Linked DNA regions of Homo sapiens. The protein of the gene in region 7 purifies or fractionates together with the protein of the main gene of each other region. This does not show direct contact. Each region holds a gene or a part of one and is shown on either strand. Other genes may lie near its edges. The genes, in order: CDC27, PDS5A, DACH1, PBX1, SMPD4, ZYG11B and FOXE1.

Region 1 (3,500 bases), on a different chromosome or scaffold from region 7:
TCAACTCTCTGTTCTGTACTATTCAAAATTAAATTATATGAATAGGTATCCTCTGTATGTATTCCCTGTGGGAAAGAACACCTTTCCCCTAGATCTTTGCATGGATCATGAAGGGAAGAGTAACCTTCCCTCTGAGTACATAAAAACAAAAACACCATACTTCATTGTCTCCCAGTTTCCTCACCATGCTTCATTTTTCTTCATGACTTATTGCTACCTGTTCTTATACATTTATTGGCTTATAATCTGTCTGTTGCTAGAATGTAAGCTCCACAGAGGCAAGAAATTGTCTGACTAGCTGTAATACAGAGTCTAGAAGAGAGTCCAGGATATCATATGCACAGAGATATATATTGAATAAATGAACTGAAAGCAAATTAAGCAAAAAACGAATCATATCAACTTTAATCCATATTAGAGATATTTTATTAATATATAGGTTTCTAAAAGGTTTCTTTTTTTAAGTTGGGGGTGGAGAAAATGCTTTGGGAAGAACTAAGGGGTAATATAAATTGGGAATTAGAATTTTCTTTGGCTTTAGGTTAATCATTCTCTCCTTTTCTGGTATAGACAGATAACTTAAGCAACAAATTTAATTAAAATCCAAAGAGTAAAAAGCCTTGTATTAAAGACATTGTGTCCTCAATTCAGCACAATTTTCTTTATAGCATTCTTCAAGCTTATAAAACATATTCGATGTCAAAAATTCACCCCAGTAATTAACTCTGTATATTGCAGAAAAATAAATAAATCCTATTACATGGTAAATATAAATATGTATTTTCAGACACAACTGAATAGGACACACTCTACGTAAGAATGTCTGGATGACTTGGGTCTCTATAAACCTATTCCGAGAAGTTGCAAAGAATTTAAATTACTCCTTAACACAAGAAAGAACTATATCTATAAATTATAAATACTGACAAAATAAATATATAGACATTACATAATAAATACTGATCTTTTAGATCTAGCCTTCTTAAGCATGGGCATTTATTTTAATGAAATTGAAATTATCTCTAGAAAGGCATATATAACCATTTTCTATACTTACTTGCATGTACTCTGAAAGTTCAAAATAGGCCCTTCCAATTTGGCACAGTACCCAACCAGTATTGTAGTGGTGAGAAGGTAGATGGCTCAAAATATTTATAGCTTCTTTGCAGTTGTATGAACACAAAGCTAAATAACCTTTCCCCATTTCACGAAGAAGGCTCATCAAACCTTCTAGGAGAAAACAACATAGTAAACAAAGGAAAAAACGCAATAAACTAGTCTGCTTCTCTAGAAAAGGTAATTACAAACTAATCTATTAAAAATTCCAACATCTATATAAAAAACAATGAAGGTACTGTAATGAACATAAAGAAATTTACTTAAAATAAGTACATAATAAAATACAAAGATAATATTAAGCATTTAAAACAGACCTGCTGCTGCTTTTTGTAGATTAAAGGCCTGAATCTGAGGTGTGATTGTGGATATTTTCCCTTCTGAAATGATGGAAGAGTCCAATTTTGTAATTTCCAGGCTATCATTTATGTTAGGTTGAGTTATTCCTCCTTTATTAGTTTTACTTTTTGTTTTTCTGTTTGGGATTTTAGGTGGAAACTTCATTTTTAATTTTTTGCTATTCTCCTGTAAAAGGGAAGAAATTTCACACCTGTTATACTCATGTATTTTAGATTTCTCCTCAGCCCTTTCTCCAGTATTAGATATAAAATAAATGTACAATCTTGATTAATTCTATATTTTTTTCAGAAGAGAGTTTATAAAAACAAAGGTCTTCAAAGTCATTTAATTTTAAACACAGTAATTCTGAACATAAATTACATTAACTAATAGTGACTAAGGTGTGTCAGCATTAAGTGTAGCCCTCTTGTGAAAGTATATCAAACTCTCATTTATTATTTAAAAGTAAGAAAATAAGTAGATGTAATTCTCAGCTCACCGCAACCCAACCTCTGCCTCCCGGGTTCAAGCGATTCTCCTGCTTCAGCCTCCCGCGTAACTGAGATTACAGGCATGAGCCACCACGCCCGGTTAATTTTTATTTTGGAAGAGACTGGATTTCTCCACGTTGGTCAGGCTGGTCTCGAACTCCTGACCTTAGGTGATCTGCCTGCCTTGGCCTCCCAAAGTGCTGGGATTACAGGCATGAGCCACCGTGCCCGGCCTTTGTTTTGTTTTTGGGACAGGATCTTATTCTGTTGCCCGTGCTGGAGTGTAATGATGTAATCAGAGCTCACCACAGCCTTGACCTCCCCAGGCTCAAGTGATTCTCCCACCACAGCCTCCCAAGCAGCTGGGATCAAAGAGTACTACCATCCCAGCTAATTTTTTTTTTCAGAGATGGGGTCTTGCTATGTTGACCAGGCTGGTCTCAAACTCCTAAGCTCAAGTGATCGGCCCACCTTGGCCTCCCAAAGTGCTAGGATTACAGGCGTGAGCCACTGCGTCCGCCGGGTCTCCAGTTTTTTTTAACTTTTATTTTCAAATAATTTTAGACTCACTCTTCTGCAAATGATAACATGTGACATAACCATAGTATATCATCATACCCAGGAAACTGAAATTAGTACAATATTATCAGCTAAAGACCTTACATGGATTTCATCAGTTTTTATATAAACCCGTGTGTGTGTATGTGTGTGCATAGTTCTATAAAATTTTATCACGTGAATGGATCTGTGTAATCAACCACCACAATCAGGATACAGGACTGTTGTACCACCACAATGCAATTCTTTTGTGCCATGATTTAATAGTAACATCCTCCCTAGAGGCCTAACTCCTAATAATCACTGATCTGTTGTCCATTCCTATAATTTTGCCATTTCAAGATTATTCCTATGTCATTTTTAACTTGAGAAAAAAAATTTTTTAATTAAAAAAGAATATTATATAATATTTACCAAAGGACTAATTAACTTCACAAAAATCATAGATGGCCCTCTAAATTAAAACATTTTAAAATTCGAAATAGTCTCTTTGTTAACTTATTAGGAATGGAGTCATCAATGAACAGAAATGTTAGCAGGCGAAGCATTAAGTAAATGTGACATACAGAAATCTTTAAATTACCTTGGTTGTGGAGCTGTCACTAGTAAAGAGTCGTGAACTTCTTCGAGGCAGTGCGTTTGGGGGAGATGTAATAGTGGGGCTCAATACCTGAGGTGTTGTACTAAAAAAAAATTATAAAGGAAGACATTAATATTTTACTTGATTTATGACCATTAACCATTGTTTCAATTTGGGTATATTTTAAAAATATACATTAATTATATAAGTACTCTAAAGTTGATGAATTTGATCAGTTCTTTTCGTGGTTTCTCTATGAAAACACAGTATTTAAAAATGAGGGACTCGGACTGGCTTTCCTGCTTCTCAGCTTGCAGATGGCCTCTTGTGGGACTTCACCTTGTGATCATAAGTCAATAATCCTTAATAAACTTTCCTTCATATAAAAAAATAAAAATAAAATGACTCGTTACTAC
Region 2 (3,500 bases), on a different chromosome or scaffold from region 7:
CGTGCACCACCATGCCCAACTAATATTTTTGTATTTTTAGTAGAGATGGGGTTTCACCATGTTGGCCAGGCTGGTCTCGAACTCCTAACCTCAAATTATCTGCCTGCCCTGGCCTCCCAAAATGCTGGGATTACAGGGGTTAGCCTCCACGTCCGGCCTAAAAATGCAGTCTTAATCTAATAATGCAGGAACACTTGAAGAAGCCACAATGGCAAACAGTCAAATTCCTAACTCAAAATTCTCTCTCTTTTTTAAGACAGAATCTCACTACATTGCCCAGGATGGTCAAGCTTCTAGGCTGAAAAGATCCTTCCATCTTCAGATCAGAATTCTTAATGACATCACTCATTTACTTTGTGTATTTTTGACAAAAATTACATATACGATGGTGTACAACATAATATATGTATATATTGTAACATTTACTTTAAAAAAAAAATCTATTAAAGTGAAATGACCACACATCCTGGTTGGCCTGGGACAGTTTGATTATGCTATTTAAGTAAAAATATCAATAGTGATCCCTTTCAGTCTGAAAATAATCCAGTTGGACCATTAATCATATGGCCATCTTACACAGAGAAGATCTGAATATGTTCACCCAACAAAGAATCAGTATTCAGTTATTAGGCTTAATATTTAGTCTGGAAGGATAAAGCACCAGTAGTTTTAGACACTAGCCACAGGTATTTTGACGTGGTCATTTATTTGAACACCTGAAACCATCCTACTACTGACCTGGCTGCCAAACAAGCCTACACATATAAGAATAACCTGAACATAAATCGTAACATTTTGTCTATAAATATTTACCTGAGGTTCTTGATTCAACTATAGAAGCAGCAACAATCCAATCAATAACAACTAATTAGATAAGATGAAGTAATTTTACGAAATCCTTAGAAAATACAGCAGTTATTTGAAAAGTAACTTACTTTACAGCATTTGGATCCAAACTAGCATATAAGTAATATAAGCATTTCATTCTCTCTTCTGTTTCCAGGTTGTGGGGGACAAGATACTGAGCAAAGATTTTCTCTACCAACAGTCTAGGAAATAACAACAACAAAAAAAACCTAAGTGACACAATTATTCCATTTTTAAGAAGCAATTTTTTTTTTTTTTTTTGGAGACAGGGTCTTGCTCTGTCACCCAGGCTGGAGTACAGTGGTGCAAACTCGGCTCAATGCAACCTCTGTCTCGCAGGTTCAAGCGATTCTCCCACCTCAGCCTCTCCAGTAGCTAGGACTACAGGCGCGTGCCACCATGCCCAGCTAATTTTTATATTTTTTGTAGAGACAAGGTGTCCCTATGTTGCCAAGGCTGATCTGGAACTCCTGAGCTCAGGCAATCCGCCTGCCTTAGCGTCCTGAAGTGCTGGGATTACGACGGGCATGAGGCACCACACCCAGCCAACATTTTAAGTTTTAACCATCTTATGCCAGGATACCATATCAAGATAATAGCTATGTGTGCACATACAATGGAAGATATCAGTTTATAATGACTTCCTTCTTGGAAAGCTTTCAGTACAGTTTAACTTTAGAGACACGGTTACTGTCTGTGGCTTTATAATTTGTCAGTATGAAACATTTGTTCTAGAAGGTTTAAATGTTATTCCTAAACACAGGGTGCTAGGCTGTTCCGCCTATTCTTCTTCAGCAGTCTAGAACAAAAGCAAATTCATTAACGCAACATATAAAGCTATGATCCGCGGTAGAGCTAATTCTCAAGAAACTCATTAATTTCCTCTGATTACAGTTCAGCCCATTTTCCATGTTGTCACATAGTTAAAAACAGGGGGACCCCCCTTCATATTACTTCCAGAAAATGTAGTTTTTCCTGTGTACATCTGATTATTGTTCTCTCCATGATCTAAATTCCTTACCAATATTGGAATATCCTTCTTGCTAGTACCTATTGCTTGTATCTTCTTGCTTCTATTATTTAATATCACTGGATTAAGAATATACAAGATCTCTTAATTAACAAATGAAATACATATCCAGTGATGCCAGAGAAGTTAGTTTAATTAAACAAAACAATGGAAACTATTCTGCACACACCAAGTATCATTTGTACGATCCAATATAGAATTATAAGTAATATTCAGAAAATGAAAACAACTTAGTAATTCCTCTATTGGTAGTGGTGTAAAAAGGAAAGTAACTAGCAGTTAACTCAATAGTGCTCTCTTGCCACACATTGGGCTAGGATGCTTTATATTCATTATTTTATTTAATCTACATGATAATCCTGTGGGAAAGGCACTATTATTTTTCCTTTTTATATAAAACTGAAGCGCACAAGACCTTAATGAACCTATGTAAGAATACACATCTAATAAAGGGCAGAGTGAACATTTGGTCTCTAACTCCAAAGTTCATGCCTATTTCATATTATAAGGCTACCTTATAATCGTGGACAGTCTTGTTTAAACACAGTACATAAAAATATGTAAAAAGCTATCTCTAAACTTAGAAATAAATGATTAATCAAGTTGAATAAACTTAATTTTATTTATGAAGTAAATACATAAAAATAAGAAATTACTAAAATATTAAATAGACATTTTTTAAGTAAAAAGTAGTTTTACACTCAACCATTCTACCAACATATTAAACTCACTTGTCGTCAATGCTGTTCTGATAATAAATATGCAGAAGTTTGTCCTTTATCCAGCTGACTTTCTCTGCAGCTTCCTTTCCTGCTTCACCATGAAGACAGTATTTCTTATAAAGCTGAGCCAGACCCATCATAGCTTCTTTTCTTACTCGCCACTAAAAAGCATAAAATTTATTAGATGAGCAAGATAACAAAACTCTGTACTAATCTCCAAAGACTGCCTTGGCTTCATTAGGTTGTACAGTCTTATGTGTGCCTTTATAAACTGGCACACTATTTCTCTTCAAAAGAGGCTTTACAAACAATTTTATTTTTTTTTTGAGACGGAGTCTCACTCTGTCGCCTAGGCTGGAGTGCAGTGGCAGGATCTTGGCTCACTGCAAGCTCCGCCTCCCAGGTTCACACCATTCTCCTGCCTCAGCCTCCCAAGTAGCTGGGACTACAGGCGCCCGCACGCCCGGCTAATTTTTTATTTTTAGTAGAGACGGGGTTTCACCCTGTTAGCCAGGATGGTCTCGATCTCCTGACCTCATGATCCGCCCGCCTCGGCCCCCCAAAGTGCTGGGATTACAGGCGTGAGCCACCGCGCCCAGCCTACAAACAATTTTGAATCTGTTCCTATTTAGAAATTTTCCAATGCAAATATTGCTAAATGATCTACTTTTTTCTTTTTAAAGAAATGGGGTTTCGTTACGTTGCCTAGGCTGGTCTCAAATTTCTGGGCTAAAGTGATCCTCCTGCCTTAGCATCCTGAGTACCTAGAACTACAGGTTACTGATTTTTTATTTCCCTTGAAAACTATTAATAACCTTATGGGAGAGTTCATTTGATTCTATTGAAAGAAAATTCACCAAGTTTTAGAAGTGATTATAATT
Region 3 (3,500 bases), on a different chromosome or scaffold from region 7:
TAAGCTGTTTTTAATCACTGTCCTAATAACCATATAGCCTTGCATAATTATATCTAAAATATTTAAGTATAAACTACTTCTTTAACTCTAAAATTAATTCTTTTTTTCTGTTGTATTTCAGTAAAATAGGACCTGTTTATTGATGTATTGTTTCATGTTTTTATGTGCTACAAAAAGGTAAAATTAAAGCCAATTGTATTTTCCTAAGTTATTTGTCCTGTGGCCCTACATCCTACAGGTGTATATGTTATGTTTGCGTGTGTGTGTGTGAATGTATTCCTACACAACACATATACATGTATGTAAAGGCTTTTCTACCAAATGTACGACAATTATTTAAAGCATAGAGTACAAATGAGCTAATGCTAATACATATAAAAAATATCCACCACAGAGTTCTCTAAACTACTGATAAAAATTTTACACTTGTTGCACACACAAGAACATTCATCCTCATATAAAATGTGTGACAGGTATTATGAAAAATAAAAGTGTTCCAGGTTATTCTTTTAAAATCAAAAGGCACTATTTAAGTGTAAGTGCCTAACTCAAGAAGATAATATCATTTTGAATAATCAAATTAAATAAAAATCCTAAATTTGAAACATAAAATAGAAAGTAATACTGTTGAATGCATCAGTATATTTTAGCAGAACTATGATGGGTTCAAAGATTTGTTACACCTTAAGTGATTTACTTTGTTCATACATAAACAATATGTCTTTAAAATATAAGACTATGAATAAAACAGCCCATTTACTGTTGCTACTAATAAAATATCAGGATACAGTTTAAGATTTTAACAAAATACTCCATCTGCCTGATAAGTGAATGTAATACACTATTTCTTAGTTAACATATTCTAGAGATTTATTTTCATTGCCTTTACTGAAGAAATGACCAGTATCCCTTAAATGGAATTGATAAATATTTACTGCAAATGCTTCTGTATGTTTCCATAAAATATCTCCCTTTCAAGTAGTACACTTTCTTTCTTAAGATATATTTTGTTTGCCCTTGAAGAAAAATAAGGTTATTTTTTTCCTGTTGTAACTGGAAAGGCAATCTAATTATTTACAAACACTTGATACCATACAAATTCAAAGATCATTTAACACTGTGACTTTTTAATACTTCATGTTTACCACTCCATTCATATACGCTAAGGAAACAAAAACATTTCTCAATTATTCAATGTTACCAATCAACATCAACCAATGTACTATGTGGCCTATTGCAGTATTTGCTTCATGAAAATCATGCTTTAAAAGTATATCCATATTTTTTTTGTCAAAAATATAGGCTATCTTCAAAATCCACTTCAGGATTCTTAAAGATCTACTTATAGTCAAATCAAAGTATATTTATTTCTATTTTTCAAATCATAGAAAATATAATCACCACGTTGTACAACATTTTCTTCCTATCTAACTGAAATTTTGTAACCTTAGACCAACAGCTCTCCAGTCCCTGGTAACCACCATTCTACTCTCTGCATCTATGAGTTCAACTTTTTTAGATTCCACATGTAAGTGATATCATGCAGTATTTGTCTTTCTGTGCCTGGCTTATTTCACTTTTACTTCCTGCTAGAAAAATGTAATGTATTCCAGGTATTGTATTCAACCTGTACGGTACATTATTATAGATACTTCAGTTAAGCACTCTCTCTCTCTGCCTCTCTCTGCCTCTCTCTCTCTCTCTCTCTCTCTGTATCTCTCTCTCTGTGTGTCTCTCTCTCAGTATCAATCACTACTCTCTAAAACTTTTTTAAAAAGTAACTGGCTATTCAGTGTGTTGCTGTGCTTGTAGTTTACAACACTTCAATATACTTATAACAACAACAAAAAAAGACCAATTAAACAATGACATAGTGAGATTTCCAGTTTAATGAGTTGTCTTTGACAACTTCCAATCAAGTCACATACATTTAAATGTGCAGAAGAATCCCAGCTTGAAATCCTGGATCAATTCCAAGCCAATTTGGATCAGAAAGCAAAAGGACCACACCTTTAACACAATGCAGTCATTGGCAAATTTAATGTCCAATTTAGAAAGAATGAAAGATGATTTTTTTTAAATGGGTGAATTCGAATGCTTTTCTCTTATAAAGGAAATCTATGTCCGAATAAACCAATACATTTTAAATGCATTTGGTTCAAGGTCCTTGACTTTGGATCAAGTGGTGATTTGGGTCATTATATGTGATGTGACATATATTTTTTAATTGGACATTTATCTGCTATTCATTAAATTAATTTTAATTGTATCATTAATTTGAAAAACAATGACCTTTTTATTGATTGTCTAATAACTAATTTATAGTGGATTGAAAATTCTTTTCATTGTCATTTGTACATTTATATATAAAGCTAATCATTAGCTGCCTAAAACTAGCAACAATGGACACACTCTTAACAGATTCTCAGAAACCTCCTTAAAATAAATAGGTGTAACAAATAAAGTAATCCACCAGTAATCTAATAATAACTAATTAGTGGACCAAATATAAATATCTTATCCTTGGTATTCTTGTTTTCCAAAGCAATAATTTGGTAAACTAACTATACTATCCTAATGAAGTCATTCCTGTATGTGACATTTGCTAAAAAGCGAATATCAGCAAATAAAAGTTAGTTACAAGACAGCCACAGTAGCAAAAATTACTTTTTACTAGAAATATTTTTGGCAGATTGAGAAGAAGGAAACAAGAAATTTGAGCAAAATGTAGGTTTGCACAGAGCCTCTGCTGTGCCTGAGATGTACATATCTGTGCAGATCAGAGCCTTTGCTGTTACACTTATCTGAGCTCCATTAGGTGGGCTCTTAATTCATAGTTTTCTTCTTTAAAAATTTAATTATTGAACATAACAAACATAATAGAGAAGGGTCTCCTTAATGCAGTCCCAAAGCCTGAAAATATAAGTGTAGTCTTAGCTAGAATATTCAAACTACATATACTATATAAATATATTAATATACTACATATAATATGTAGTATTTAGACATACGTATGTACACACACACACACACACATGCATGCAGATATACATCTCTTAAACTGGCCAATCACAAAGCATTACCTCAGTAAGAAAATGGCACATGCTGACATATGCTAAGGTCATTCTATTTTTATAACAATTCAAACATAAAATGATAAAACTTTATCTTAATTACATTTTTAAATACCCAAGCCAATAATATCCATTTTTACATTTCCTGTTATTCTAAAGATATATAACTTAATGTGACTTTTTTTTTTTTTTTGGTGAACAAGCTGAAAAGGAAATACTTGAAAGATAAATTCAAACAAAGTTTAACTTTTTAAAAGAACCAAGTAACAAAAACCTTAAAATAAAAATGTTTAATGAAATCTAGATGACTCACCTGTACCTATTTAGAAGGCATAGTTCAAATTAATTTCTTCAGACAAGGATTCAAAGGGAGACAGTTTACAACCTGTGAGAGTTTAATTTCCCATTATATTTTGCAGTAGTTGT
Region 4 (3,148 bases), on a different chromosome or scaffold from region 7:
GTGGCCTGAATAATTGCCATGTTAAGTTAATGCAAAAGATCAGAACAGGGCTACATTTGCACAGGCAGTTTCTCTCCGGGCCGTAGTTTTCACTGATGATCACCTTTCACAGCATTTTCCCCAACCAGCATTTCACTTAGTCTTCTCTATACCCAGCACCTCCCCCGGCACCCCCGGCAAGCCCACTATCACTTCCGACTTCCAACGTGGCATCCGTGAGATCTGTCCACATTAGGCGAAGCAGGAGAACACTGAGAGCAGCAGGATGGGTTTGGAAAGAGCATGCCTCTGGAAACACAGCTTCCTGGGAATTCACATGAGGCCAGTCCTACAGAGAGCAAGATGCACCCCAGGATTTCTTCATTTTCTAATAGATGTGGGAGTGCTCCATTTTCCCCGACAGCGAATTTCCCCTGAGAAACGATACTAGACCCTGGGTTTGCCCACCTTGTAACTCTTCCTTATCTCCTCCTTTTCATCCCTAATCCATCCTCCCTCTGGCATGGAATTGACGCCCGTGCAGTACATTTGCCAAGTGGCACCTTCTTTCAATTTATGTTTTATTTTGCTATGGTGGTGATTCTTTATTTGCTGGTTGTCTTTTCTCACACATCTTTCTCTCTGTCTCTCTCTTTCCTGCTCTTTGTTTTTCTGCCCAGAAAAACCTGACTTCGATACCAAAAAAGATGAAACTACAGAAACTCAAATTTAAAAAAAACTTTAAAAGAAACAAAAAAATACTCAACGATTCTTTCAGCTTTATTAACATTTTCCATTGTTTCTTGCGACTTGTGTCTCGTTCTTTGTAGTATTGATGATGAACATTTGATAATGAATGTTCTTGTATATTCAGATAAAGAAAAAAAAAACCAAAAAAGCGGTCTGAATTTAATAGTGTTTATAATAAAAATTTTAAAAATGACCCTCATAGCACGCAAAACAGGATGGGGAATTTCCCCTCTTCTTTCTGTGACAATGCGCATCATTCCTGCATTAGTTTTTAACACCAGACTACCTACATTCATCATTTCCCTCATTTTTCTTTTATTTTCTTGCATTTGTGAATTAGTTCAAGAATGCTAGAAAAGTGTCGAGTTGTGCACATCCATTTCTTGTTTCACAATGTTTAAAAGTGACAGTAATTCATTTTGTAAACTAAAAAAAAAAAAAAAAAGGTTGGAATAGTGAGCATAATAGGTACAACCTAACACATTATTATGTTTATTAACTTTGAGACCCAGAAATAAATTCTTTTCTTTTCTTGATTCTTGCTCTTAAAAATACAAAAAAAAAAATGTTTTGTTTTGTGTTATTTTTGGTTTGTTTATTGGGGGGCTTTTTTTAATTGTCAGGATTATGATCTTGCTGTTTTTCTTCAATATGTATACAAGGTGATGTGAAAAGATGACTTGGGCAGAGGAGTAAGAACAAGTAGGCTTGTTCTTCTACTTTGCTTCAGAATTCAGTTAATGCCAAAAGCGAAGATCAAGCCCATGTTGATGTCTCGTTGCTCACCTGCATTTCCAGAGAGTGTGACACTCATGCAGTCCCTGAGAAAAATAAAATCAGGGACATACTTCTCCTTTTAGCCTTTTAAAAATTCAAAAACGTTTAGTCCAAGGGAACTTTTTATGCTATCAGGAAAGGTTTTTGCTGTTTTTGATTCTGATTATCACAGCCAAGTACTTTGTTTTATTTCTCCCTAATTAATAACTACATTCCATGAGGCCTCTTCCAACCAAAGAGGCCTTTTCTTCCAGGAGAGTCCCGCAGGAGATGCTGGTATGATGGGCACCATTGGTTAAGTAAACTACATGCAGGAAGAAGTCCTTGGGGCCAGTCTGCCAGCTGAGTCCTGGTTTTGGATGAAGAGTTAATGAGATATTGGGCCAGGCTCAATGCTGTAGTTTTAATGCTAAGAGGTTACGTTTACTTCACAGAGTACACCTCTTAGTAACCTCTGACTTAGGCAGCTGCTTAAAGCAAATTGCAAAACTGGCTTGATTTGGAATGTTTTTATTAGAGGAAAAAAGAAAGCCATATTATCTGGAAAAAAATTCATTTTAAATACCATCATTCAACAAATTATGTTCAGAAAGTGGTCAGAACTTAAGCAAGAAAAGTAAAGAAAGAATGCAGAATTGTGGAGCAATGCTTTAGGAAATATTTCTACCTGAACACTTGTACTCTTGAAGTCACAACAAAATAATGATGAGCTTTTCACATCACCTTTATGGTTTCAATCCCTAGCTCAAAGCTTCCTGGAATCTTTTATTTTTTGTAAACTTTTTTTTCTTTTGTTAAAATAAATAAAACATTCAATGTTTTTCTCCTTTTCTCTCTTATTACTTCTTTCCTTTGGCATTTTCAATTTGAAATGCTTTCCTTTGGTTGTTGGTTTTATTCTCCCCCTACCCCTCCCCTTTTCTTATTATTCAGAATATAAACCTGCAAAGCTCTGCTCTGTTTTGGTTTTGAAAGTTTAAGCTTTTCTGCTTCTGTGAGAGCACAGGCTTCTGTCCCTTTTGATTCCAACTGAACTTTTGTGTTCTCTAATGATACTAACACGGTGTAGGTTTTACAGTCTCCTAATTTGTACTGGTAATGCATATTCCAAATAAATAGTTTCTTTTGTTGCAAAAAAAAATACTTGTATTTTGTGCACATTTCTTTTCTTACATGCTGGCAACTTCTCTTTCCCCAAACTAGGCCTGCATTAGTGTAGATTATGGTTTAAACTGTTGCCCTAATCACTGAAAAGTCTACATACTATGGTGGTGGGGCAGAGACCTTATGGACCACCTTCTTCACTCAGGAAATAAGAAGGAAGGAAGGAAGGATCATTTGTGGGTAAACAATAGCTGTATTACAGAGGGACAGAGCACCCCATCTTGTCTGCTTGCTACTGGCAGCCATCCACCAAGCACCAGTTCAGAGAAATGCCAGGAGTATTTTCCATAATAAATTCTAAGTTCCTAAGTCATGGCTGTTTGCCCAGTGATTCTCCTTTTCTTCTCTTTGTCTGCTGTGATCTGGTCATAAGAAAAATTGTGGTTCCCAAGAGATATTTCAGGGGAAGGAATCTAGGTTACAAATAATACCCAGTTGTAGGCTCTCAGGAGTGTGATAGATGTTACTCCCAACAGAT
Region 5 (3,500 bases), on a different chromosome or scaffold from region 7:
GGCTGAGGAGGGAGAATGGCCTGGGCCCACGAGTTGAGGCTATAGTGACAAATGATCGTACCAACTTCACTCCACCCTGGGGTGACAGAGCAAGACCCTGTTTCTAAAAAATTAAGAAATTCCCAGCCTGGGCAACATGGCAAAACCCTGTCTCCACAAAAAAATACAAAAATTAGCCAGGTGTGGTGATGCCTCCCTGTAGTCCCAGATACTTGGGGGGTTGAGACAGGAGGATCACTTGAGCCCAGGAGGTTGAGGTTGCTGTGAGCAGAGATCGTACCACTGCACTCCAGCCTGGGGTAAGAGAACAAGACCCTGTCTGCAAATAAAATCAATTTGAAAAAATAGGAGAATCAAAAGTGGATGTTAATACTACTGATAATTACATAGTCTCCATACATCTTCCCGGTAAATTCTCGTTATCAATTTTTTTTTGAGACAGGATCGTACCCTATCGCCTAGGCTGGAGTGCAATGATGCAATCACAGCTCACTGCAACCTCAACCTCCTAGACTTAGGCCTCCCAAGTAGCTGGGACCAACACCACCACGCCTGGCTGATGTTTTTCTTTTTAGTAGAAACAAGGTCATGCTATGTTGCCCAGGCACTATTAATTTTTTTTTTTTTTTTTTTGGTTGAGATACGGTCTCACTCTGTAGCCCAGGCTGGAGTACAGGGGCATGATCTTGGCTCACTGCTACCTCCGCCTCCTGGGTGCAAGCAATCCTCCCACCTCAGCCTCTCAAGTAGCTGGGATTACAGGCGCACACCACCACACCTGGTTATTTTTAAATTTTTGGTAGAGATGGGATTTTGCTATGTTGCCTGAGCTGGTCTCACACTCCTGAGCTCCAGTGATCCGCCCACCTCAGCCTCTCAAAGTCCTGGAATTACAGGCATGAGCCACCATGCCCAGCCTCATTACTATTTAACCTGGGCACAAAGTAATTATTTTACAATGGAAAAACCTGACCGGCACCTTTTTAACCCAGTGATAAAAGGGCACCTGGCAAGGACCAGGTGTCCCACTACGGTGCTCCTCCCAACAAAGCCCATGCTGGGCCTAGTCACCAGCAAATACCACACAGCCTAAGGGGCGGCCGCATGCTCTGGAGGGGTCAAGGTCAGGAAAGACAGAAAGGCAAGGGACCATTCCTGACTGAAGGGGACTAGAAATATCACTATATACAGTGGGTGAGCCTGTGAAACATCACTGCACACAGTGTGAGGCCTGGTGGCAATACTAACTTCCTGGTGTGGTTACAGGCACTGTGACTATATAGGATAATGCATTCGCTTCTAGGAAATACACTGAAATATTAAGAGGTCAAGGGATGCCATATCCTGTAGCTTACTCATATTGGCTTAGAGAAAAAAAAACACATACAATAGAGGTGGAAACCAACACATGCAGCAAAGTATTAACAGTTTGGAAATCTGGGTGAAGATCTATGAAAGTTTCTTTTTTTTTTTTTTCCCTGAGACAGGATCTTGTTCTGTTACCCCAGGCTAAAGTGCAGTGGCACGCTCACAGCTCATTGCTCCTGGGCACAAGTGATCCTCCCACCTCAGCCTCCTGAGTAGCTGGGACCATAGTTGCACATCACCATACTTGGCTAATTTTTTTTTTGTAGAAATGAGGTCTCCCGACGTTGCCCACACTGGTCTCGAATTCCTGGCCTCAAGTGATCCTCCCGCCTTGGCCTCCCAAAGTGTTGGGATTACAGGCGTGAGCCACTGTGCTCAGCCTGCAAGTTATTTTTATTATGCGTGGAAACTTATCTGTAAATCTGAAGTTATTTCAAAATAAAAAGTTAGGTGTGGTGACTTGCAACTGTAATTCCAGCTACTTGGGAAGCTGAGGCGGGAAGATTGCTGAGGCCAGGAGTTCAAGACCAGCCTGGGCAACACAGCGAGGCATCCCCATATCTCCGCAAAAAAAAAAAAAAAAGTTAAATTAGCTGGCTGTAGTGATGCATGCCTATAGTCACTGATGTGACAGGCTGGCTTGAGTGATGATTGTGCCACCAAGTGATGATTATGACACTGCACTCCAGCCTGTGTGACAGAGTAAGACCGTCTTTAAAAATACATAATGGCTAGGCCAGGAGCGGCGGCTCACACCTGTAATCCCAGCACTTTAGGGGGTCGAGGCAGGCAGATCACTTGTGGTAAGGAGTTCAAGATCAGTCTGCTCAACATGGTGAAACCCTGTCTCTACTAAAGATACAAAAATTAGCTGGGTGTGGTGACAGGCACCTGTAGTCCCAGCTACTTGGGACTGAGCCAGGAGAATCACTTGAAGCAGAGACAGCGCCACTGCACTCCAGCCTGGGCAACAGAGTAAGACCCTGTCAAAAAAAAAAAAAAAAGCACACAATGGACCAGTGTAGTGGTTCATGCCTGTAATCTCTGAACTTTGGGAGGCTAAGGCAGGAGGATCGCTCGAGCCCAGGAGTTCTAGAGCAGCCTGGGCAACATAGCAAGACCCATCTTACAAAAAAATAAAATAAAAGCTAGGTGTGGGGGTGCATGCTTATAGTACTAGCTACTTGGGAGGTTGAAGTGGGAGGATCACTTGAGCTCAGGAGGTCAATGTTGCAGTGAGTTGTGATCACAACACTGCACTCCAGGCTGAGCAACCCAGCCAGGCCCTGTCTCAAAAAAAAAAAAATGCTGGGTGCAGTAGCTCACACCTGTAATCCCAGCACTTTGTCTGAGGCCAAGGTGGACGGATTGCCTGAGGTCAGGAGTTTGAGGCCAGCCTGGCCAACATGGTGAAACCCCGTTACTACTAAAAATACAAAAATTAGTCGGGCATGCTGACCTGTGCCTGTAATCCCAGCTACTTGCGAGGCTGAGGTGGGAGAATCACTTGAACCCAGGAGATGGAGGTTGCAGTGAGCCAAGATCATGCCACTGCACCACTCCAGCATGGGCGACAGAGTGAGACTCCATCTCCAAACACAAAATAAAATAAAATAAAATAAAATAAATAAATAAACCCAAACCATATATATATAATTTCTTTTCTTTTTTTTTTTTGTGTGTGTGTACAGTGGTGCAATCTCAGCTCACCACAACCTCCGCCTCCCGGGTTCAAGCAATTCTCCCGCCTCAACCTCCTGAGTAGCTGGGATTACAGGTGTGCACCACCATGCCCAGCTAATTTTTGTATTTTTAGTAGACAAGGTTTCACCATGTTGGCTAGGCTGGTCTCGAATTCCTGACCTCAGGCGATCCCTCCACCTTGGCCTCCCAAAGTGCTGGGATTACAGGCATCAGTCACCACTCCCAGCCTACGTATATAATTTCTAATAGAAAAAATTAAAACAACCCAAAAAGTTAAAACAAGCAAAAAAACCAGGCATCAAAAACTGCTTGGCAGCTGAATTCTGCATCTAAGAGGGTGTGAATCTGCCTCACCTCCGAGTCCTCCACAGGATCAGCAACATTTCAGGGTCACTGATCACTGCCGCTACCTGGGCAGCGTCTCCTCC
Region 6 (3,500 bases), on a different chromosome or scaffold from region 7:
CCAGTCTCAAACTCCTGACCTTAAGTGATCTGCCTGCCTCAGCCTCCCAAAGTGCTGGGGTTACAGGTGTGAGCCACCACACCCAGCCACATTAAAACATTTTAATACAAATAGAAGTGAATTCCATTTAAATATAAACAAAATAAGCCCACAAGGTAGGAACCTAAACTATCTGAGTTGGAGACAAAATATTCTAATATTCCCCAAATTACAGTGCATTTTAGAATAAATTATTCAGGGGCTGGGCGTGGTGGCTCACACCTGTAATCCCAGCAGTTTGGGAGGCCGAGGCGAGCAGATAACGAGGTCAGGAGATCGAGACCATCCTGGCTAACGTGGTGAAACCCCGTCTCTACTAAAAATACAAAAAAATTAGCCAGGCGTGGTGGCAGGCGCCTATAGTCCCAGCTACTTGGAAGGCTGAGGCAGGAGAATGGCGTGAAGTGGGAGGCGGAGCTTGCAGTGAGCCGAGATCATGCCACTGCACTCTAGCCTGGACGACAGCAAGACTCCGTCTCAAAAAAAAAATAAAATAAAATAAAATAAATTATTCAGGGCTGTCATTCCATAGAGTAAAACCTAAATAACTCTAATACCTAAAAGTAGTGACAAAAATAAATACTCATATGAAAATGCACTATTATTATTATTATTATTATTTTTTTTTCAGACAGAGTCTCACTCTGTCGCCCAGGCTGAAGTGCAGTGGTGCGATCTCGGCTCACTGTAACCTCCACCTCCCAGTTCAAGTGATTTTCCTGCCTCAGCCTCCCTAGTAGCTGAGAGTACAGATGTGTGCCACAACCCACAGCTAATTTTTTGTATTTTTAGTAGAGATGGGGTTTCACCATGTTAGCCAGGATGGTCTCGATCTCCTGACTTCGTGATCCACCCGCCTTGGCCTCCGAAAGTGCTGGGAATACAGGCGTGAGCCACCATGCCCAGCCAAAAATGCACTATTATTTACTTATTATGTTTTATTTTCTCCTACTGAGCTGTGAAAGGTCCATTCCTTGAGTTATGAGGAAAGGAACCTATAGATTAGAGACTGGGAATATGATGGGATCAACTGTTAAGAAATTTGGGAGTCCTCAGAACCTGTGGGTACAGTAAAAAGAAAACGACTTTAGGGCAGAGACAGTTTAATGTAGCTAAAGAGGCAGTTTTCGATTTATGAGTGAACAACTCTGCTTCTGGGTAATGTAGTAGGAAGGACCGGATAAGCCTCCAGGTGGGAGTTCAGGTGGGTACAAGGCAGTTTTCTCGGTCACATCCCATTCATTGAATTATTCTTCTTTATCTGACACAGAAGAGCTTTTACTGCATTGCCTTTTTGTGGTATGCAGTGAGTTTTCATCAAACAATACAAGAGAAGGAGCTGGGTGCGGTGGCTCATGCCTGTAATCCCAGCACTTTGAGAGGCCAAGGCGGGTGAGTTCGAGACCAGTCTGGCCAAAATTGTGAAACCCAGCCTCTACTAAAAATACAAAAATTAGCTGGGCATGGTGGCGTGTTCCTGTAGTCCCAGTTACTCGGGAGGCTGAGGTAGGAGAAATGCTTGAATCTGGGAGGTGTAGGTTGTGGTGAGCTGAGATCGTGTCACTGCACTCCAGCCTGGGCAACAGAGTGAGACTCCGTCTCCAAAAAAAAAAAAAAAACCCAAGCGAAAATCTCACTAAATGTTACTACTTCTGCTATAAGGATATTAGTAAAAACAACTCTCACATATCCTATATAAGGCCCTTTATAGTATGTCCCCTATTAAGGTCCAATAGAAGAAATTTAATTCATAGTTAACTTCTCATAAAAAATTCTCTCCCCTCCCCATCTCCCCTGACAAGGATATGGAATGTTTCCCTCTTATATGGAGAACCATGTCGCTTTTTACTTGCAGCAGAGCCACAAAAATCCCTATGCATGGCCTACAAGTCTACATTTGACTATTTTCCCTCTATCCTAGAATTTTTTTTTTTCTTTTTGAGACAGAGTCTCACTCTGTCACCCAGGCCAGAGTGCATGGTGCCATCACAGCTCACTGCAGCCTTGCTTTCTGGGCTCAGATGATGCTGCCACCTCAGCCTCCCAAGTAGCTGGGACTACAGGAGCACACCACAACACCTGGCTAATTTCTTTTACATCTTTTATAGAAACTAGGTTTCGCCATGTTGCCCAGGCTGGTCTCAAACTCCCGGGCTCAAGCGATCCACTCACCTCAACTTCAGAAAATGCTGGGATTATAGGGATGAGCCATTATGCCCGGCCCCTATAATTTTTGAAAAATTATTTTTCCTTACTTCTAATTAAAACTAAAAGTAGGCCAGGCACAGTGGCTCACACCTGTAAGCCCAGCACTTTGGGAGGCCGAGGTCGGTGGATCACCTGAGGTCAGGGGTTCAAGATCAGCCCAGCCAAAATGGTGAAACCCTGTCTCTACTAAAAATACGAAAATTAGCCAGGTGTGGTGGTGCAGGCCTATAGTCCCAGCTACTCTGGAGGTTGAGGCAAGAGAATCGCTTGAACCTGGGAGGTGGAGGGTGTGGTGAGCCGAGATCGCACCACTGCACTCCAGCCTGGGTGACAAAGTGAGACTCCATCTCAAAAAAAAAAAAAAAAAAAAAAAAAAAAAAAAAAAAAAAATATATATATATATATATATATATATATATATATATATACACATATATATACACACTTTACTATTAAAGTGGTTCTGTGTATTTCTTGTGTCAAATCATTTGTGGAATGAGTTTATATTAATAAATAATTAGGCCACGCTTGATGGCTGACGCCTGTAATGCCAGCACTTTGGGAGGAAGAGGCAGGCAGATCGTTCGAGCCTAGGAGTTTGACACCAGCCTGGCCAACATGATGAAACCCCATCTCTACAAAAAATACAAAAAAAAGCCAGGTATGGTGACGTGCACTTGTAGTCCTAGCTACAAGCTGAGGCAGGAGGATCATCTGAGCCTGGACGTCAAGGTTGCAGTGAGCTGTTACTATGCCACTGCACTCCAGCTCCAGTGATAGAGACAGACCTTGTCTCTAAATAAATAAATAAGAGTTACATCGTAGCTTTCAAAGAATAATATAGAACCTGATTCAAACACTTTGCTTCTTCAGAAACCATGGGTGCTGGCAGCGACATCTTGAACAACAGAATTTTGGGTGAATGAGAATTGGGCACCGGAATGTACCATAAACAGTGGATCTACTTAAGACCTTTTACTCAACAAATGGACTCACTGTAGTCTCCTAATCTTTAAATTCCTTGAGGTGAGAACAGTGTCTCATTCACCACTATTATTCAGTGTCTAGTTACACCATGCTCATTCTGAAAGAATACCTTAAGTTGGCCGGGCACAGTGGCTTATGCCTGTAATCCCAGCACTTTGGGAGGCTTAGGCGGGCGGATCACCTGAGGTCAGGAGTTTGAGACCAGCCTGGCCAACATGGTGAAACCCCGTCTCTACTAAAAAAAAATAATAATAATACAAAAATTA
Region 7 (3,934 bases):
AAGAAACAGTGGACAAATGAACGAATGTACTTCTCTCTGCCTTATAATGGAAAAGCAGATTTATGACTGGGCAGTAACAGCCATGAAATTACCAGCACGTCCTGCTCAAAAGTTCAATAAGTTATGATATAATTGCTGCCTGGAGCCAATCCTGGGACTTTAGGTTAGACGCTTGGCCATGAACTCTTTTCCGTTCCCTAGAACAGCGGCTAGGCTTTGGGTGGCTACTCAGAGGCCCTGGGTGGCCCACCATTGCTGCCAAATACGCAGGGCAGCATCCAAGATGATGGGGCCCTGAATGATAACCCGGGGGCGGTGGATAGAGTCCTGCAGCCCTCTAGTGTAACAGATGGGGGAGACTGAAGGTTCAGGTGATGGGACTGGAGTGCTGACGCACAGTTCAACTCGGAGCTAGGTCTCAAGTTCTCAGAGACAGGGAAAACCAGCCCAGGTCAACCAGAGCAGAGATTTCTCCAATTTAAAAAAGAAGAAAAGCCTATTTCTTTTGCAAATTTGTCCTCCTCACTTTAAGAAGAAAGGCGCTGCCGCAGCCTTTTATTGTAGTAACGCAGTTAAAGGCACTAGAGGACGAACCGCGTAAAAAGGCCCGAGTTCCGGCAGCACATGGAAGGCTGAAACTGATTCCCCACAATTTGGATCCTGGTCTCTGGTGTTGACACTACGCTGCCCTCTGGTTACCGCCAAGGACCCTCCCCGATAGAATACCAGAAAGCATCCCGTTTGAGGGCTTCGCTCCATCGAGGGTCCCTGTGCCAGTCCAAGGGCTCTGGCTGCCTCGCCCCACCTCCTCCCGTTTACAGAGTACACCGGGTGCCTACGCTGTGCGCGGGGAGACCGAGCCTCTGTGGCCTGCTCGGTCTTTTCCACGTGGGTCCCAGTTGAGTCCTCTCTCCATTCCTGTTCGTTCTCAGATTGCGGGGAACGTGTGAACAGCCGATGTGTCTATGAGTTTTCGTCCCTACGCTGGCTCACATGGCGGACACGAACCGATCTATCCCACCGGGATAAGCGGCAGCATGGCGAGCATGGTAGGCGCCTGCACTGGCCCCTCCGAGCTGCCCGCCAGGGTTGTAGCAGGCTCCCAGCGCTCCGAACTGGCCGGGCGACGTGCGCCCGTAGAAGTCCACCGTGGTCTCCACGCCGCCACTGCTGCCGCCCGCTGGGGGCGAAGCGGGTCCCGCCAGGCGGCCAGCAGCGGCAAAGATCGCACTGCCGGCGCCCTGCGGGTACGCGCCGTCGGGGCCCGCGTAGGCAGCCGCATAGGCGGAGGGGTTGGCCGGCCGGGCCCCGGTGCAGCCTGCGGGCTGGTAGCCGGTGGTGGTAGCGGGGGCGCCGGCGGAGGCAAAGGCGCAAGAGCCGCCGGGCCCCGACGGTGCGGGCCCCAGCTCTGGGCTGAGCGGCCGCTCAGGAACCAGGCCGAAGACGCGGCAAGGGCCGGGCGACGCCGCGGGGTAGTAGACTGGAGGCGGCGCGGCCAGCGACGGCGGCGCGTAGCCTGCATAGACGGCGCCCGGGTAGGGGGGGCGCGCGGCGGGCACCGCGCCTGGGAAGATGGCGGCGGCGGCGGCGGCGGCGGCGGCGGCGGCTGCGGCAGCCGCCGCGTCGTGCATGTAAGCCGGGTAGGTGGAGAGGTCCGAGCGCTTGAAGCGCTTGCGGCGGCGCAGGAAGCTGCCGCTCTCGAACATGTCCTCCGCGTTGGGGTCAAGCGCCCAGTAGTTGCCCTTACCCGGGCGGCCGGCCTCGCGCGGGATCTTGAGGAAGCAGTCGTTGAGTGTGAGGTTGTGGCGGATGCTGTTCTGCCACTTTTTGGGGTTGTCGCGGTAGAAGGGGAAGCGCTCGGTGATGAACTTGTAGATGCCGCCCAGCGTGAGGCGGCGCTCGGGCGCGTGCGCGATGGCCATGGCGATGAGCGCGATGTAGCTGTAGGGCGGCTTCCCGCGCTGCAGGGGGCGCTTGCGGCGCCGCCCGCCCGCCCCGCGGCCCGTGGCCTCCCCTGGGACCCCGGCCCCTGCTGCCGTCTCGCCGCGCTCTTCCTTCACGGTAGCCAGCACCTCCGGCTGCGGCGGCGGCGGCCCGCTCTCGGCAGTCATGGCGCGGGCGTCCCGCACCCCCGGGCTCTGGATCCCCGCGGCTGTCGGGGGGCGGGGGCGGGCCTGGCGTCCCCGGAACGGACGCTCGGCCCTTCTGCGGAGAGCTCAGGGGATCGTCGCGGGCTGGCCCCGAGAGCCCAGCGGCCCAGGCTGGCACGCGCTGGAGGCTCAGCGTCCGTGGTCTGGGGCTGGCGCGGTGCAGACAGAGGCTCGGGAGTGACCCGCTAGCCGACGGCTCAGCCCGCGTGGTGCTTCTCGAGGCGGGCAGCGGCGGTGGCCTCGTGACCGGGACTGGACTCTGGTCTCCGGCTGAAGGGTCCCTTGCGCGCTGGTGCCGGGCGGTCGAGGGGTCCGGAAGTGATCCCTGGGTTGGGGTGGCTGCAGCTGGTCTGTGGTGCCCGCTAGTTTAGGATTACTGCCTAGGTTGTGCGCGCAGAAGAGGCTTCGGGCTCGAAGGCCAGAGCGAGGGCAGTTAGTACTGGCGCTGGGCGATCTGGCGGGGGCCGCCCATGCCCTGCCCCCGAGGCCAAGGTGGCCGTAAGCGCCACGGGCAGAGAGGCGAGGCGGGGGCAGCGAGGTCGGGGCGCGGGCCCAGGCGGGGCGACCTGAGGCTGGTCCTCTCCACGGCGTGGGTCTCCAGCCCTGCGGACCGCTGGCGAGGCGCTCCCCTGCACACACCGGACCGGCTCCTCCCTCCGCCGGCTTCCCCTCCTTAAAGGGGCCACGAAGCGTGGGGCGGCACCGGTTCCCTGCCCGCCCCCCGACTGCCCGCCCCCCGGGGCCCGGGCGCACCTCCCCAGGTAGGAGCAGCTGTGGCGGCGCGGTAGGAGCCCCACAGCGTCAGGGCGGGGAGGGCGCTTGGAGATCCCCCGGGTCGGCCCCCTCCGCACCCCGATCGACTGAGGCCCGGAGAGTTCAGGAACCGGCTCGGGAGACCTCAGCGCCCGAACTCGGAGTTTTCGGACTTTTCAGGCCTCTGCCAAGGGCTTGGACTCGCAGGTGAAAGGACGGGCTCATCTCACTTTTTTGTCCTGAGAGGGTGAGAATTGGCCGAGAGGGCGCTTGGTTTTTGTGGGAATGGGGAGGGAGAAGTTCCAGGAGACTGGCTCCCCGGGCCTTTCAGGATGGTTTCCAAACCCCAATCGTGGCTGCCACAGCCACTCGGCACTCCAGTCCCCCCATCTTTCGAATGAGTATTCCTAGGCCCGAAAGGGAAGGTGACTTGCCATGGCCCCACTGCGGCTTCTCCGCTTAGCGGAGTCTCCAACCTGCGTCTCCTTTAGGACTGCGCTTCCCAACTGTGTGGTAGAGGTAGCCGCTTTCCCTTTTTGGGCCCCAGGTCCCTCGACTGTACCGGGGTCTGGATCTCTCAAGAGTCCTTGCGTGGTAGATATTTAGGGATAGGCCAATCACCACCCCCAATCATCCGTCTTTGAGAGGCCCAGGATCTGTCTCTATTTGATGGATAGTGGTGCACGGATTAAAGACGACGCAGGATAGGTAACCTCCTCCTCCAATCCCCCGGGACCAGGGTAGCTCTGAAGACCCCCAGAGGCAGCCAAGCAGCCCCTTCCCGCAGCGGGGAGTGAGGGCTGCGGGTAATGGGGGAGTGGGAAGAGAGCGGTGGCCGGGTGGGCGCGTCTCCGGGGGAAGGGGCGGGCAGTCGGGACACGTTTGCTTCATGGGTGTCCAATTTCTGAGTTCCTTTCCTGCTGTCCCTGAGCCGGAACTTGGTCCTAACCTGAGATCCTCGCGGCGCGGCCCCTCTGGCCCGGGTTCGTTCCCTGGCCATTCACTGGGAGATCCAGGGCCTGTCCTTGTCC

The links.
Region 1: the proteins of FOXE1 (region 7) and CDC27 purify together in Homo sapiens (affinity purification with mass spectrometry; one large-scale study listed by BioGRID and IntAct). This does not show direct contact.
Region 2: the proteins of FOXE1 (region 7) and PDS5A purify together in Homo sapiens (affinity purification with mass spectrometry; one large-scale study listed by BioGRID and IntAct). This does not show direct contact.
Region 3: the proteins of FOXE1 (region 7) and DACH1 purify together in Homo sapiens (affinity purification with mass spectrometry, with the first as the bait; one large-scale study listed by BioGRID). This does not show direct contact.
Region 4: the proteins of FOXE1 (region 7) and PBX1 purify together in Homo sapiens (affinity purification with mass spectrometry; one large-scale study listed by BioGRID and IntAct). This does not show direct contact.
Region 5: the proteins of FOXE1 (region 7) and SMPD4 purify together in Homo sapiens (affinity purification with mass spectrometry; one large-scale study listed by BioGRID and IntAct). This does not show direct contact.
Region 6: the proteins of FOXE1 (region 7) and ZYG11B purify together in Homo sapiens (affinity purification with mass spectrometry; one large-scale study listed by BioGRID and IntAct). This does not show direct contact.

The regions. Positions count from the first base shown.
Region 1 is NC_000017.11:47,140,796-47,144,295, forward strand, and holds part of CDC27 (cell division cycle protein 27 homolog), read right to left. Parts: intron 3,188-3,500; coding exon 3,088-3,187; intron 1,642-3,087; coding exon 1,434-1,641; intron 1,231-1,433; coding exon 1,058-1,230; intron 1-1,057. UniProt on the Homo sapiens protein: Component of the anaphase promoting complex/cyclosome (APC/C), a cell cycle-regulated E3 ubiquitin ligase that controls progression through mitosis and the G1 phase of the cell cycle.
Region 2 is NC_000004.12:39,901,412-39,904,911, forward strand, and holds part of PDS5A (sister chromatid cohesion protein PDS5 homolog A), read right to left. Parts: intron 2,781-3,500; coding exon 2,629-2,780; intron 1,050-2,628; coding exon 936-1,049; intron 1-935. UniProt on the Homo sapiens protein: Probable regulator of sister chromatid cohesion in mitosis which may stabilize cohesin complex association with chromatin. May couple sister chromatid cohesion during mitosis to DNA replication.
Region 3 is NC_000013.11:71,857,205-71,860,704, forward strand, and holds part of DACH1 (dachshund homolog 1), read right to left. Parts: intron 1-3,500. UniProt on the Homo sapiens protein: Transcription factor that is involved in regulation of organogenesis. Seems to be a regulator of SIX1, SIX6 and probably SIX5.
Region 4 is NC_000001.11:164,849,184-164,852,331, forward strand, and holds the end of PBX1 (pre-B-cell leukemia transcription factor 1), read left to right. Parts: 3' UTR 1-156; coding exon of another isoform or gene 157-219; 3' UTR 220-2,648; downstream 2,649-3,148. UniProt on the Homo sapiens protein: Transcription factor which binds the DNA sequence 5'-TGATTGAT-3' as part of a heterodimer with HOX proteins such as HOXA1, HOXA5, HOXB7 and HOXB8. Binds to the DNA sequence 5'-TGATTGAC-3' in complex with a nuclear factor which is not a class I HOX protein.
Region 5 is NC_000002.12:130,168,103-130,171,602, forward strand, and holds part of SMPD4 (sphingomyelin phosphodiesterase 4), read right to left. Parts: intron 1-3,500. UniProt on the Homo sapiens protein: Catalyzes the hydrolysis of membrane sphingomyelin to form phosphorylcholine and ceramide. It has a relevant role in the homeostasis of membrane sphingolipids, thereby influencing membrane integrity, and endoplasmic reticulum organization and function.
Region 6 is NC_000001.11:52,816,953-52,820,452, reverse strand, and holds part of ZYG11B (protein zyg-11 homolog B), read right to left. Parts: intron 1-3,500. UniProt on the Homo sapiens protein: Serves as substrate adapter subunit in the E3 ubiquitin ligase complex ZYG11B-CUL2-Elongin BC. Acts to target substrates bearing N-terminal degrons for proteasomal degradation with the first four residues of substrates being the key recognition elements.
Region 7 is NC_000009.12:97,852,092-97,856,025, reverse strand, and holds the start of FOXE1 (forkhead box protein E1), read right to left. Parts: upstream 2,801-3,934; 5' UTR 2,112-2,800; coding exon 990-2,111; 3' UTR 1-989. UniProt on the Homo sapiens protein: Transcription factor that binds consensus sites on a variety of gene promoters and activate their transcription.